Regions from separate parts of the Homo sapiens genome. Here region 2 is linked to region 1. A link means that fine-mapping ties the variant in region 1 to the expression of a gene that starts in the linked region. Tissue or cell type: whole blood. Region 1 holds a variant in brackets; the other region holds the start of a gene. All regions are shown on one strand. Distances are between the middles of the regions.

Region 1 (8,265 bases):
GGGGACTGGAAGGCAGGGAAAACAAACATAAAGGAGCTGCAATCTTCCAGGCTTAGGGTGGGCTTTCCCTCTGCTTTTCTGTAGAGGCAAAGTTCCCTGGACTTTAGGTCCCTTCTGGTGCACAGCCAAGCAGGTTTTGGGGTATTTAGTGACCAGCTCCGTTCTCAGAGCCCCTCAAATGCTGTGAGTCCCATTCATCCATTCATTGCCCCACTCATTCATTCCACACCATCTGTTGAGCACTGGAACGTGCAGGCTCTCTGTTTGCTGCAGGGATGTGATTTGGAACCACAAGGATGCAGAATGGTGGCCCCCTTCACGCAGCTTCCCATGGGGAGTGCAGAGAGACACGGAAGAGGGAATCATGGTGCAGGATTTCTCATTAGTGGAGAGCACATGCTGGGGCCACAATCAGGGAAGCCTTCCCAGAGGAGGTGACATCTCTCTGCCTTACTCACAAGGCCCCACAACTAGGGAGTTGTGTAGCCGGGGCTTGATCCCAGATCCACATTCTCCCACAGAGCTTCTCAGCCTTGGCTGTGCACCAAAATCACCTACGAATTGTTTAAAACTGGCCCCTCACACTGGTGGGTTTCAGAGCTTCCCAGGTGCTTCCCAGATACAGTCAAGACTGGAGCTACTGCTTTCAGTCTAAGACTCATTCCCTTAAGCCTGAGAAGAGTGGATCCGGCAGACCCCATAGGGCTGTTGTGAGATGGATGAAAAGCACTTTATGTTTGGAGAGGGCTGTTATTAAATATTTGTCTTAAGCATTCAGCCTGAGAGTCGCCTCTGTGGATTGAAAATAACAAGCCTTTGCCCTTCTCTCTGACTCTTCCATGTGGCAGCTGTGTGACCCTGAGCAAATTTTTACTTGACTTTTCTGAGCCTGTTTTCTCTTCTGTTAAATGAGCTGTAATAACTAACTCATGGAGCTCCTCTGAAGAAGAAATGAGCAAATGCACGCACAAAGCACTTTGCACAGTGCCCAGCCTGTGCACGACGGGACCTCAGTAGATAATCATTCTCTCCTCTTTTTATGCCTGACTTGAGCTCTGTCCTGGGTAGTACCCAGAACTTGGCTGTGTTGTCGCTGGGTTTGGGGATGGCCCTGAGCCAGGTGTGGCCAAGCCCTGCTGGCAGTAGATAGCTCTGAGGTTACCCCAGCCTTGGAAGCCAGTTCTGAGAGATGGCAGCCACTGGCCACTACACAGTCCTCCTAAACCCGCTGGGGGCGGAGTAATAAAACCACTTGCTCAGTTGCGCTGAAAGAAGGAAAAGGCTGTTCCTCATCTCACACCCCAGTGATAGCCATGAATCCCCAAGCACACAGTGTAAAATAAGGTAGGGAATAATCAGATGCAAAACCCTGGGATGTCCAGAGATGCCAGGGCGAGTAAGTGAAACCAGATCCTGGCTTTAAAATCCTGTAATGCATTCCCCAGAGATGCTGTCGGGTTCCCTTCCATTCCCAGAGGCAGGATGAGCAGCTGTCTGGTGTGCTACAGAGAGGAGAGGATCTGTGTGTTTGAAGTAGAGGGGAGGGGTTCAAGGCCAATGTCCGAGACCCCTTCCAGCTCCAGGGTTCAGGGGCATCTGGGGTAAGACTCAGCCTGCTTTGCCTGGGACCTTGCTTGTCTGACATATATATTTACAAAACAAAGAGAGCAAAGAAATGTTTGTTTTGAGAGGAGAATCCCCACATAGTAGATTTCTAAGGTCTGCACTAGGAGCTCAAGCGTGGTCGCAGCCCTAGCATTGCATTCCTGGGCCATTCCAGAGCTGCCTTGCTTAACAAATAACATCCAGTTTGCATCAATGTACAGAAAGTTGCTGACAGCAGGAGCCGGTCTTCTGCCTCACGGATGCCCTGGTCCTAATATGCTAAGGAGCCAGGAACCAAGCCCTGGGGAGAACAGAAGTTAGGAGGAGACTCATTCAATTCAGGGGATGAGCCTTTTTGTTCCTGCTTCCTACGAGTGCAAAAAGGCTTTCAAGGATACATCCCTGCTTGGCCACTGGTGTCCAAGCCATCCCAAGCATGGGGACCCTTGGAGCTGACCCACACGCTGCTGGGAGGACTGCCACCTGACCAGGGGTGGGAGCTCACAATGATGAGACCTCACGTTAGGTGCCAAGTCCTTGACATGCCCTGTTGCTCCCAGCCGCCACCATGATGTCCACTTTAAGAAGAGGTGAGAGGCTGGGTGCGGTGGCTCACGCCTGTAATCCCAGCACTTTGGGAGGCCCAGGCAGGCGGATCACGAGGTCAGGAGATCGAGACCATCCTGTCTAACACGGTGAAACCCCATCTCTACTAAAAAATACAAAAAATTAGCCGGTCGTGGTGGCGGGCGCCTGTGGTCCCAGCTACTCGGGAGGCTGAGGCAGAATAGCGTGAACCCCGGAGGCGGGGCTTGAGTGAGCCAAGATCGCACCACTGCACTCCAGCCTGGGCAACAGAGCTTGACTCCGTCTCAAAAAAAAAAAAAAAAAAAAAGGGTGAGGTATGGAGAGGTCACTTCTGGCCTATGGTGGAGTCAGATTCCAATCCTGCTCCTGAGTCCAGCTGCCTCCTTCCACCCTCCTGAGTTATCTCCCCACAGGAATCACCATGACAGTGTGTGATGCCTTGCAAATTCCTAATTTCCCCAGGACCCACAGAGGCAAGTAGCTGATCAGTTCTCAGATGGGTGCATGGGATTCACAGGTGCCCTCTTCAGGCTTTTCCAGTCCCAAGAACCAGAGACTCATCCGGGTCATTTCAAGTAATGAGGATATGCAAGGAGATTTGGGATAACCAGGACCCATAGTTCAGGTGGGCCTTGTGGATCCTGGCATGAGAAGGTCACTCGGAATCCAAGGCCGTTCTGGGGGCCACTGCCCTTTGGCTCAGCTTTTCACTGGGAGGCCTCTTCTCCAACATGGCTTATTGATTCCACCATCCCTGCCTCTCAGTCTCTTTGTGTCTGCTCAGCTCTCTCCGTATTCCCCAGTGTGAACTGCTGGGAGAGGTGGCCCTGCTAATCTTCATCAGAGAGGCTGGGACAGAACTTCTGAGTCAGGCCAATGATTCACGGTCTTTCCCACGTGGAAGGCAATGCCCATGGGCTGTGAGCATGGCACACACCCAACCAGCCTGTTGAGAGCCACGCTCTAACCACATCTGACGTCTAAGACAGACAAAGCTGGACCCTAGTTACAGTGATAAGAACAGATTGTAATCAGCGATAACTATTGCAGCAGGGAGGAGTCCAGCATGAACTGAATGCCACCTCGATGTGTACAGAGGTGACGGGTATTTTAAGGGAAAATGAGGGATTAGGGAGAGGGAAGAGTGGGGACTCAGTAGAGTCAGGGAGGTGAAAAATTACAAAAAGCAGAAAGGAGCTAGTTCATGTAAAACCCATCTGGGTTTGATAACTGGTGCTTATCACAGTGAGGCTTCTGCATCCCACGGGGGACAGGGGCCCTGTCTTCAGGTGTTGGCTGGAACATACAGGAAATTCTTTTGGTAGTCTTGCATTTTCTCAGGCAGGCACTTTAAGGGGGTCCAGATCATCCTAGGAGCGGAATCTTGAGCTATTAGAAACTATATTAGTAGGCTGGGCGCAGTGTCTCACGCCTGTAATCCCAGCACTTTGGGAGGCCGAAGCGGGCAGATCACGAGGTCAAGAGATCGAGACCATCCTGGCCAACATGGTGAGACCCTGTCTCTACTAAAAATACAAAAAGTAGCCGGGCATGGTGGTGCACACCCATAGTCCCAGCTACTCAGGAGGCTGAGGCAGGAGAATCACTTGAACTCTGGAGGTGAAGGTTGCAGTGAGCCGAGATTGTGCCACTGCACTCCAGCCTGGATGACAGAGCGAGACTCCTCCATTTAAAAAAAAAAACAAAAAAAAAACAAACCTATTGTAGTTCTGTTCACATCTATACAGACATGTCTTGTGTCTTTATAGAGGGAAGGTTGAGGTTCAGGAGAGCACCTGGCTACAGAGTCTTTGTCACTGATCCCCTCAACAACCCTGAGAGGCCCATGGGACAGTGAAGAAATGAGGAAGTCTGAAATGCCTCTCAGACTTGCGAGAGCACTTGTAGCTTGCCTGGACTGGCCCTGCCCATCCAGTCTCTGCCCTGGGCTCCCCTCACCCACCACGCTGCTTGCTTCAGACCCACACCTGCCGGGACAACCTGGAACTGCCTCGCAGCATTTTGCATCCAAAGAAGAGACAGGGTGAAATACCTCTGTGTCCCCAAGGCTAGATCGATACATGTTTAGACATCAATTAGCAAGGCGGGGATATAGAATGACCTTCAGAAGGGCAGCACAAATCGATGAAATCCAGGGTCAGGCCCCAAGTCACTGTGTGCACAGCGAGCTGTGGCCTCCGTGCTGGGGCAGCACCTTTCCCACCCCTCCCACCCTGAGCAGGTGGGATCTGTGGGTGAGAACAGCACCCATTCTGAATATGCAGGCACTGGAGGTTGAGACTGGAACCAGGGATCCGGAGGCATTCAGAAGGGGATTCCAATCATGCTTGCTCATAAAGTCACGCACACATCTACCCATTGCCCTCCACGCCATCTATTCAGCATTTAGGGCCCTCAGCCAGCCACGTGTCATGTTAAGTGTTAAGGGGCCATGGACAAACAAGACATGGTCTCTATTTCCAAGGGAAAATAGTATATGTGCTTGTAACCTTCACAGATGGAGAGCAGTG[C/T]CACCTGGTTCTAGGAGTGCCAGCCTGCCCCACCCTGGGCCCTGCTGGTTTAACCTCAAACTGTCTTCTCTCTGTATTATGGTTTGTTACTGAAAGTAGCCAGCATCAGAAAGAGAAGTGGTCTCAAAAGAGAAGGATCTGGCATCCCAGTAATGGCTGGTGACTTCTCTGTCAACTTCAGTTTCCTCATTTCTAACTGAGGGTTTTGGAGCCCCTGAGTTCTCTGCCAGCTTTGACATTCTGTGGTCTTTCTTATCTATTTTAAACTCTTAGTTCATTTGAGTGAGTCCAGGGCAAAGACAATACTTATTTATCCTTGCATCCTTAGTGCCTAGCACAATCCTGGAATGTGGTAGTAATTCCATACCTGCAAATTGATGGATAAATAAATATGCAATTGAAAAAATAAACACAGACATTGATAAAATATACATAAAGAATTAATACAGATAATGCATTTTTAGTGCTGCATATCTGTGCACGGGAAGTAGAATCACCCCGGACTTCAACAAATATTATCACTTTCCTCAAAAGCCAAGGCTGGTTTATCCTTCCCCTGCGTGCAATCGTTGACATGTTCATTTTCAAATGCAAACTCAGCAATGGCTGTGCTTCACAAAGGCAACCCTGTCTTCTTGGTTCTCCCATAAGACTCAGGAGAAACCAAGCTGTTTCTATGAATTTTAGTTAGAAGCATTGCAGTTCCAGGGTTAAAGTAATTGTTTTTCATGTAACTGCTCCATCAAAAGGCATCTTGCATCAAAGTCGTGATGCAAATTGGTGGACCATGCTCAGGGATCTTCTGAAGAAAGGATTCTGGGAAAGAAAGGAGGGTGTAGATGGAGAACTGGCCCGAGGGCTAAGTCTCAAGTTCAGGCCCCAGCTCTTCTGCTAGCTACGGGATGACTTGGGTAAGGCACGTCACCTCTCTGGGCCTCTGCTCCCACACGTGTCATGCAAAGAGTGTGGACTGTGTCATCTTCAAGTCTCTACCAGCTGGCAAATGCTATGCTTCACCATCATTTGTGATTATTGGAAAAGCCCAAAGATGATGTCATAATTACCGAAAAATCACTCCAAGCACTAAGTAATGGGACATCTGTTGCCGACAACTAAGCTAATGGAAGTTGTTCCTAGTGATATCCTGAGAAAATGCTAAGATTCCTTGTCCAGACCCATGCCTTGATCTTCTCCATGACCTGGCCTCATCTGTGCCTCAGCTGTACCCTCTTTACTGGGGAACAAGCTCAAGCTTTGAGAGATTTGGGGCCTGTAGAAGGAGGGTGGCTGAGGACCATGGGGTTGGTCCCGGTGGGGCCTGGGTGAAGGGCAGGCTCAGTACAACAGGTTGAGGAATGGGGAGGCAGGTGCTGTGGTCTGGGGCTGCAGTGAGGCAGAGAGCTCCAAGCCGAGGCTGGAATTGACACTCCAGAAAAGTTGTGGGGTGAAACAATGAGCCCCTTGATCTGGGAGACAGCAAGGAGGCTACCCAGCCAGGAGCCAGTCTCCTGCCCTGTGTTCCCTCAAACCACTTTCCTCTCCTAGGGTTACACAGTGAAACCAGGCAGGGATGCTCTGGTCTGGGCTTTGAGGTGACAGCACTTTTCTCTTTCTGCTTCTCTGTATCAAAGGGAAGAACCTTGGTCACAGGGTGTTGATGGGGCTTGTAACCAAACCGAAGTGGGATCTTCTTGCCTGGCATGGTAAAGCCAAACATCCATACTGAAGTTGTGCAGTGGGAGGAAGCATGGTGTTTATTTGCAAGGCACCAAGCAAAGAAAATCTGGTAGCTCACACTTAAGACTCAACCTCCTGGATGGCTTACAAGCAAGGCTGTTTAAAGGCAATGGTAAATTTCAGGAGAGCAGAAGTTACAGGCAAATTTCTAAATCAAGACATGGATGTTATACATTGGTTTGGCCTAAAAAGGTGGGAAATCTGGAAGCAAGGGCTTACAGGTCATACATGGCTTCAAAGACTTTCTGATTTGCAATTGGTTAAGGAAGGGAAACTTTGTCTAAAAACTTGGGTTCAGCAGAAAGGAATATTAAGGTCTGGCCTGTGGATGTGACTTCTTCCAGGTCCTCAGAGCTAGCTAGGTGCCTGGAATTTTCCTTTATTCTGTGGCACTGGAGAATAAAGAATAAACACAATCATTAGCTGGGCATGGCAGCATGCACCCTGTAGTCCCAGCTACTTGGGAGGCTGAGGCGGGAGAGAATGGCTTGAGCCTGGGGGACAGAGGTTGTAGTGAGCCGAGATCATGCCACTGCACTCCAGCCTGGGTGACAGAGCCAGACCTTGTCTCAAAAAAAAAAGTCCGTCAATCAGAGTTCAGGCCTCAGTTTCCCCTCATTTGAGGTCTATATGCCAGCAAATCCATTTGGTTCTGGGTTTCTGAAAAACATCCAGCTGGGTTTCTGAAAAACACCTCAGGGACATATGTTAAGATGTTCTCTTTAGTTTCTATAGAGAGTCATCAGAGGTTGACTCTAACTTCTTTGACTATTGCTTTAAGCTACTATTTCTTTCTTTCTTACCAAGTTGCTCATTTACTTCTTGGGGCTAGCCTAGAATTTCCCTTGAAGATACTCAAGATTTTCTTTTATTTCCATGTTTGGGGGCCTAGCAGCCCCTAAGTCCCTGCTCCATCTCGGGCTTGTGGTCCCCAGTTCTGGGGAAGCAGGGAAAAGATGAACAGAGATGAGCCCTGTGGATATCTGGGTGTCTCTGCTATGGGGGGCAGGGGTGGGCATTACAAGAAAAAGCTCTGCCAAAGCCTTGTGGGATGGGGATTGGAATAAGCTGTCAAGAACAGCCTCTCCTTGTTTTTAGTAAGGAATAGCTCTTGGTGTTTCCCTTCAGCTTGGGTTTTCCAGCCAAGTGATGCTATGTGCCGGTGCCATTCCTGCACAGAGCTGGTAGGGACCAGCCTTGTAGCCAGTACCATCCTCTTAACTTGCAAACCATGAAGGCATGGACAGGTAGACCCCAGTCTGCAGGTTAGGGATCCAGAACAAGAGGAAAAGTGTGATAGTCTCTGCACCTAACGCCCTCACCTGAGGGGTGCAAATCAGATACCCACACGGGAGTGGTATGGGGCAGGGTTTTCTTCCGGGTTGCTGATCCTCATTTGCTCAGGAAGGGTTTTCCAGGGCTCAATGTGGTATGATGCCAAGGAGGAGGTGAAGGTGCCTCGCAGTCATTGAAGGGCAGTTACTAGGGGACGTGGCTGCAACCTCGAAAGCCTGGGGTCCCATTGCTCATCACCAGCTCTCTTGCCCTTTGCCCTCTACCTGGAGCATCTGCTCTTGCTTTGGAGCCTAGGAGTCTCTGAATTTCACACAATCAAGAATCCCTGTCTCCCATTTTCCTCCACTGCCACGTGCAGAGAGAGGCATCTCCCTGACTCCAGTAGCCCCGTTCCCCCTGCAGGGACCCTCCTGGGGGGCATCTGAGGAAAAAACTCCCTGGACTGACAGGAAGAGTCTTGGGGAAGTCACGGACCAGGCTGAGGCTGCCTCTCAGTCACCACTTCTGA
Region 2 (6,310 bases), 100 kb before region 1:
GCAGCTTTATTCATAATAGACAAAGATTGGAAACATCCCAAACCCCCTTCAGCAGGAGACCGATATACACATTGTGTGTGGTATGTGCCTATCACGCAATAGGACTCAGTGCTTCGAACAGGGCGGGAGGTGGGAGGACAAGCGAGGATGAGCGTGGAGTCCTCACATGGCAGAAAGGCAGAGGATCAAGCCAGCCCACTCCTGCAAGCCCTTTCTACGGCATCCCAAATACATTCATGACTCAAATACCCCCACAAAGGCCCCACCTCCCAACACTGTTGCAATAAAGATTACATTTCCAATGCTTGAATTTAGGGGGACACTAACTACCACATTTCTTGCTAACATACACATCTCTTTAGGGAAGGTCTTTGGACATCACTTTTTTTTTTAAGACAGGATCTTGTTCTGTTACCCAGTCTGGGGTGCAGTGGTGCGATCACAGCTCACTGCAGCCTCAAACTCCTGGGCTCAGTTGATCCTCCCATCTCAGCCTCCCAAGCACCTGGGACTACAGGTGTGCATCACCACGCCCAGCTATTGTTTGTATTTTTTTTTTTTTGTAGAGACAGGGTTTTGTCATGTTGCCCAGGCTGGTTGGACATCATATTTTGAGCACATTTCTGGCTGTTTTTAAGATTACATTCCTAGGAATGTTGGTGAATTGATGGGGGACAAAAACATTTGTTTCCCCTTGAGAGGCAATGGTACAGGGGAGGGGTTAAGAGCATAGACCCTAGGATCACATTGCCTAGGGTTGAATACTAGCTCTGCCACTTACTGGCTACAAGACCCTGGACAAGTCACTTCCTCTCTGTCTCTGTAAATGAGCATAATAGCAGCACCTGCCTCAGGGGGTTGTTGAATAGGTTCAATGAGCTAATATATAAGAAACACATGGTATATGCTATAAAGTGTTGTCTTCTTTTCCTTCTCCTCCTCCGCTCCCTGGGATTATTACCATAATGATACAATTATCATTTGTTCTTTCTGTAAAATGGAGTTTGATGTTGGAGCTGCTTCCTAGGCAGTCAGGCAGGGCAGTCACTGAGAATGAGGACGGCGTTTCTGACTCAGCTGTGGGCGGGCAGCTGCAGTGACACAGCTGAGTCTTGGCAAACACTTTTCATGTACGAAGCCTGACCCTGGAGTCTTGAGGCTGAACTTTTCACCAACAAACAGGAATGCATTCATGAATGTTACCTCTGGGTGCTGTCCTCTGGAAGCCATCTGCATAGCCTAACTCTGCCACCCTGGCTTGGACAATTATGGTGATTTCTCTGATGCCCCTGATACTACCACCTCAATCTGAATTTAGCAGCTCCCTTCACATATGGTTAGATTGCCTTTAAAGAGATTTTTTTTTTTTTTAGAGATGGGGTCTCACTATGTTGCCCAGGCTGGTCTTGAACTTGTGGGTGGGCTCAAGCAATCCTCCCACCTCAGCCTCCCAAAGTGCTGGGACCACAGGTGTGAGTCACTGCACCCGGCCTAGATGTCCTTTTTCAAACGTAAGCAATCATGCTCAGGTTTAGGATTATTCGTGCCTGGGTCCCCCTCCCATACTGAATTGCTATGGACAGCCAGCTAGTCTTCATCCTGCACCCCCCAGCCCCTGTGCAGCGTTAATGAGCCAGAAACGCTGATTCTGCTGCTGAGTTCCGTGGAACCCCCTGGGGCATTTTCCTGACTACCCCCAGTGTGGCCAATCCGTGTCCACTGAGGATGAATGTGACTCCAGGAAAATACATGAAGTAACTCTGTGCCAAGCTTGGTGAATGAATTGAGCCATGCCAATTCTGTGCTATAAATAAATTTACAAGACTGGTTTTCTTGCGTGGCTCATAAGCCAGGTCTAGCTGCCACTCCCCCAGAAGTCTTCCAAAAAGTATTTTGAGCAGGACCTTTAGACTGGGGTGTTGGAGTCCCAAGGCCAAGGCCGACCGCGCTGCTCTGGGCCCAGCGGGCGTTCCCACACGGGGCTGTAATGCCACGATTGGCCGCAGGAGGGGGGCCGTATTCCAGACCCCATTGCAGAAGCCTCCGCAACTGCTCCAAGAACTTTATTTTATACGGACTGGCGGCGAGAGCAGCTGCAGTTCGCATCTCAGGCAGTACCTAGAGGAGCTGCCGGTGCCTCCTCAGAACATCTCCTGATCGCTACCCAGGACCAGGCACCAAGGACAGGGAGTCCCAGGCGCACACCCCCCATTCTGGGTCCCCCAGGCCCAGACCCCCACTCTGCCACAGGTTGCATCTTGACCTGGTCCTCCTGCAGAAGTGGCCCCTGTGGTCCTGCTCTGAGACTCGTCCCTGGGCGCCCCTGCAGCCCCTTTCTATGACTCCATCTGGATTTGGCTGGCTGTGGGGACGCGGTCCGAGGGGCGGCCTGGCTCTCAGCGTGGTGGCAGCCAGCTCTCTGGCCACCATGGCAAATGCTGAGATCTGAGGGGACAAGGCTCTACAGCCTCAGCCAGGGGCACTCAGGTGAGTCTTGGTACTAATTTTGTCCTATCTCCTGGGCATGCTGTCTCAAAGACAGCTGGAGGAGACTGGAGTGAACTGGATGGAGAGGAGTACAGAGTTTGGGAAACTTCAGACCTAGAGCCTGGAGGTGCCTTCTCCAGGTGGGAAGGTCCCCGCCTGCTGGGCCCGCAGATATCTGCCGGGCCCTCATCCAACTGCCTGGGCTGGAGAGAATGTGAGCCTGCATTTGGGGTGCCAGAGGGAAGCTATTGCCTTGGTGGCTACTCCACCTGACTCATGTCACAGCTCAAGAGCCTACTCAGGGTGCAGATGGCTCAGGTGACAGCTCCTCTCCATGGCTTCGTGTGTGTGCATGTGTGTGTGTGCATGTGTGTGTGTGCATGTGTGTGTGTGTGCATGTGTGTGTGTGTGCATGTCTGTGCGTGTGCATGTGCCAGTGGTGGGATATATGTGGGGAGAGGTTATTTCTAAAATATCTGTCTCTGTCCAGCTTTGGGTTATGATTTAGCTTAACTAAGTACAGTTAGAGGAGGAAAACATTTAAAACCTCCTTAGTGATTCTCTCTTTGGAGAAGGGCCACACTCATGTGATTTTTTTCCTTGGTTTTGATGAGTTTAAAGTGAGGTAATCCAAAGAAAAGCCATAAACCCTGCAGAGTTAGATGCGGGTACCCAGAGAAACTGACTTGGTAGCAGCAAATGAGGCTCGTGCTACCCACTCAGAGGAGGAATTAATGGAGTCCTTCTGATCTCCAGAGAAGGATTGAAGAGCCAGGGTCCTGATATCAGCCCTAGAGTGCATTCGCGATTGCCTTTTACAAAGGGAACTTCAAACAGCTTTGTTTCTGAGACTGGCTAGGTAGGAGGGAGGCCTTGGGAACCTGGACACCCCCTTACCTGGCTGCCAGGCAGAGTCAGAAGATGCTGGGGGATGCTTTTTCTCATCAGACTGCCACCAGCTCCCCTGAGTGACCTTGTTCATAAAGTCATGCCACATGCATTATCTCACGGGAGGCTCACAGTGATCCTGGGTGACCAGCAGCTACCCACCTTCCCATCTTAGAGGTCATGTACCTGAGGCTGAATGAGGTCAGGTAATTGAGCCAAGTTCCCCCAAGAAACCAATACGCAGAGGAGCTAGGATGGGAGCCCTTGGCTTCTGTGTTCCCTGCATTCCTGCAGAGAGCCAGGCCTGCAGGGCGCAGATGGCCCCAGGGCACAGGGCTGCAGGGCACAGATGGCTGAGGGCTTTTCCAGCTCTAAAATGCAGAATCTAGAAGCAGATCCCTGGCTCTGAACCTGCCCTTCTAAGTGCCTTGGGTGAAATTGTCTGGAAGTAAATCATGATTGCCAAGAGGTTAGTGGAGAGGGTGACACCTCCCTGTTAGAGCAAGACCTCCCTCTTTGAGTTGCAAGTTGAGGTCCAGTCTCCTTGGGCTTCATCCACAGGTCACTGTGGCTTCCACATCTCGCCCATGTGCTTCAAGCTCTCAGAGCCCTGCCTCAGTCCCAGGATCCCCACCTGCTGGAGTACACTGGCTGGCAGTCTGAGGTGGGATTCTCTTCTCTGCCTGATCTGGGGCCCAGAAAGTGGTCACCAAAGGGGCTGACATGCAATTCCCAAACAAAGCAACCCTGCAGCTGAGCCAGTGCCCTGTGTAGGAAAACTGTGCCCGGGGCCTCTTCCCGCTCTGATATCCATTCCTTCCTTTGCCTCTTTGGTCTGGGATGGCTTATGTTTAAAATGGGAGGGACGGAATGCAAATGCCATCAGCCTACCCCCAACACAGTGCTCCTGGGAGGAGCACTTGCCATCAGTTTCATCTTCTAGAGCACAGACTTGGTCCAAAGACAGTAAGATCCATGATCTGAGGGTCCCAATGCCTGCTTCCTCCCCCAAGAAAGAAAAACAGCCCCCAAGAAACCTTGGGCAGACAGAACATGCGTAGGTTTCAATTCCAAGTAACAAACATGAGTAGAGTTGTCTGAGCTTTTCCAAGCCCTGTGCACTCACATCTGGCCCCGCTCGGCCCCAGTCCCTCTCCCCAGCAGATCCCCTGGGCTCCTGCTGGACCAGCTGAGGGGTGGGGAGGAGGAAGGAGACAGCTGCCCTTCACACACATTCTGGCTAACAAGCCGTGCATTCCAGCCCCGTCCCAGGAGCTGACCAGAAGAGGAGGAAGGTGGAAATGGCAGTGGGGCCTCACACCTCCACTCCCCAGGGGCAGCGCCCTGTCTGGCTCTGTGTGGCCTCTGGGAAGCAGAGGCTATTGCCTTTGGCAGAGGGAGGGTTATTGCAGGCAAAAGAGACATTGGCCTCCTGCTTCACAGCCCCGCAAGGAGTGAAGCCAGAGGGAGGGCTGCCGCACACAGTGCTCATGAAATGAGGGAGGGTCCCTTGCAACTTAGCAGTGCTGGAGCTGCCCGCGGCCCCACCTAGAGGCCCTGCCTGGGTGGAGGCATTGGGTGGAGGGCCGGAATTGGGAGCCCAGTGAACTGGACACCACTGCAGCACAGGGAAGCCAGAGTGGGTGGTGTCTGGGGCAGGGAGGAGAGATCCTGGCAGAGCCGAGGACCACCCCCTGTTCCATCCCTCCCATAGGCTGGAGGAGAGGCCCGCAGATACTGGGAGCCCCAAGGCTGTGTGTGTGCACATGCGTGTGTGTGCCCGTTATGGGGGATGTACAGAAGGGCTAACAGCAGAGGCGTCCAGCCCTCCTGGGTCATTAGAAGGACATGTATACAGTGACTGGTCAGTTCTGGTCTCTTCTCAGCCCAAATGTCAGAGGTCTGTGGAGGCCAAGCTCAAGTCATGAAAATAGGGGCTTCAGCTGGGTGCAGTGGCTCACACCTGTAATCTCAGCACTTTGGGAGGCTGAGGCCAGTGGAGCGCTTGACTCCAGGAGTTCCAGACCAGCCTGGCCAACATGGTGAAACCCCATCTCTGCAAAAAATTAGCTGGACATGGTGGCTTGTGCCTGTAATCCCAGCTACTCAGGAGGATGAGTTGGGAGGATCACTTGAGCCCGGGAGGCGGAGGTTGCAGTGAGCCAAGACTGCACCACTGCCATCCAGCCTGGGCAACAGAGTGAGACCCTGTCTCAAAAAAAAAAAAAAAAAAAAAAAAGAAAGAAAGAAACAGAAAAAAAAAAAGAAGAAAGAAAATACGGAATTCTTGTTTTGCTCTGCTGCAGAGCAACCCCGCCAGCCGCCTTCCCTGATTATGTCTATTTATGAAAGTTGCCACGCCTCCTTGCCCACCCTCCCTCTGAAGAGAAACTGATTGACTGATCTCTCAATCAACAGGCATTGTCCCCCCACTGCCACCTGCCAGCCCTGCATCCTCTCCTCCCAGCCTCCTCTGGGTTGAAGGGTTGAGTTTGCTCCATACTGGGCCTGGGACCCATCCTCATGGGGCTTTTATCTTCTAAAGGATGCTGTTCTTTGGTTAAATGTCCAGATAGTTAAAGAGAATCAGAAGCAAAGGTCAAGATAAACTCATGGCTGGAACCTTGATGAAAGTAGAGAATAATTTGTAAAGTCACTGAGCATTTATGTGACAAAAACAATATCAAGAAATTGATGTATATACTTTGTAATTTGGCTTAAAAAACAGATTCTTCTCATTACATAAGGAATGTAAATGCATCATAGAAAACCCAGAAAATCTGAAAGCAAAAAGGAATATTAAATCCCCACAATCCCTTCCAGCCAGAGTCCTGTAATACATTTCTCACCCGGAGCCATCATAGCGTCTTACATCCACACGCACCTTACGCGTGCATGTCTTACAAAATGGGATCGTGTTGTACACATTGTTGCG

The links. PIP is the estimated chance that this variant, and not a neighbour inherited with it, causes the effect.
Region 2: SCARA5 starts here. The variant in region 1 is fine-mapped to the expression of SCARA5 in whole blood (TOPMed, PIP above 0.99).

Annotation. Positions count from the first base shown.
Region 1 is chr8:27,886,842-27,895,106 of GRCh38, reverse strand. All of the region lies in intron 7 of SCARA5 (scavenger receptor class A member 5), which reads left to right. Among named protein-coding and RNA genes, the nearest start is that of MIR4287, 4.9 kb to the right of the region's middle. RefSeq lists enhancers at 1-184, 1,697-2,283. The variant C/T (reference allele first, on the strand shown) is at 4,725.
Region 2 is chr8:27,988,434-27,994,743 of GRCh38, reverse strand. SCARA5 (scavenger receptor class A member 5) reads left to right here and starts at 2,071. Exons shown (of 9, transcript NM_173833.6): 1 at 2,071-2,487.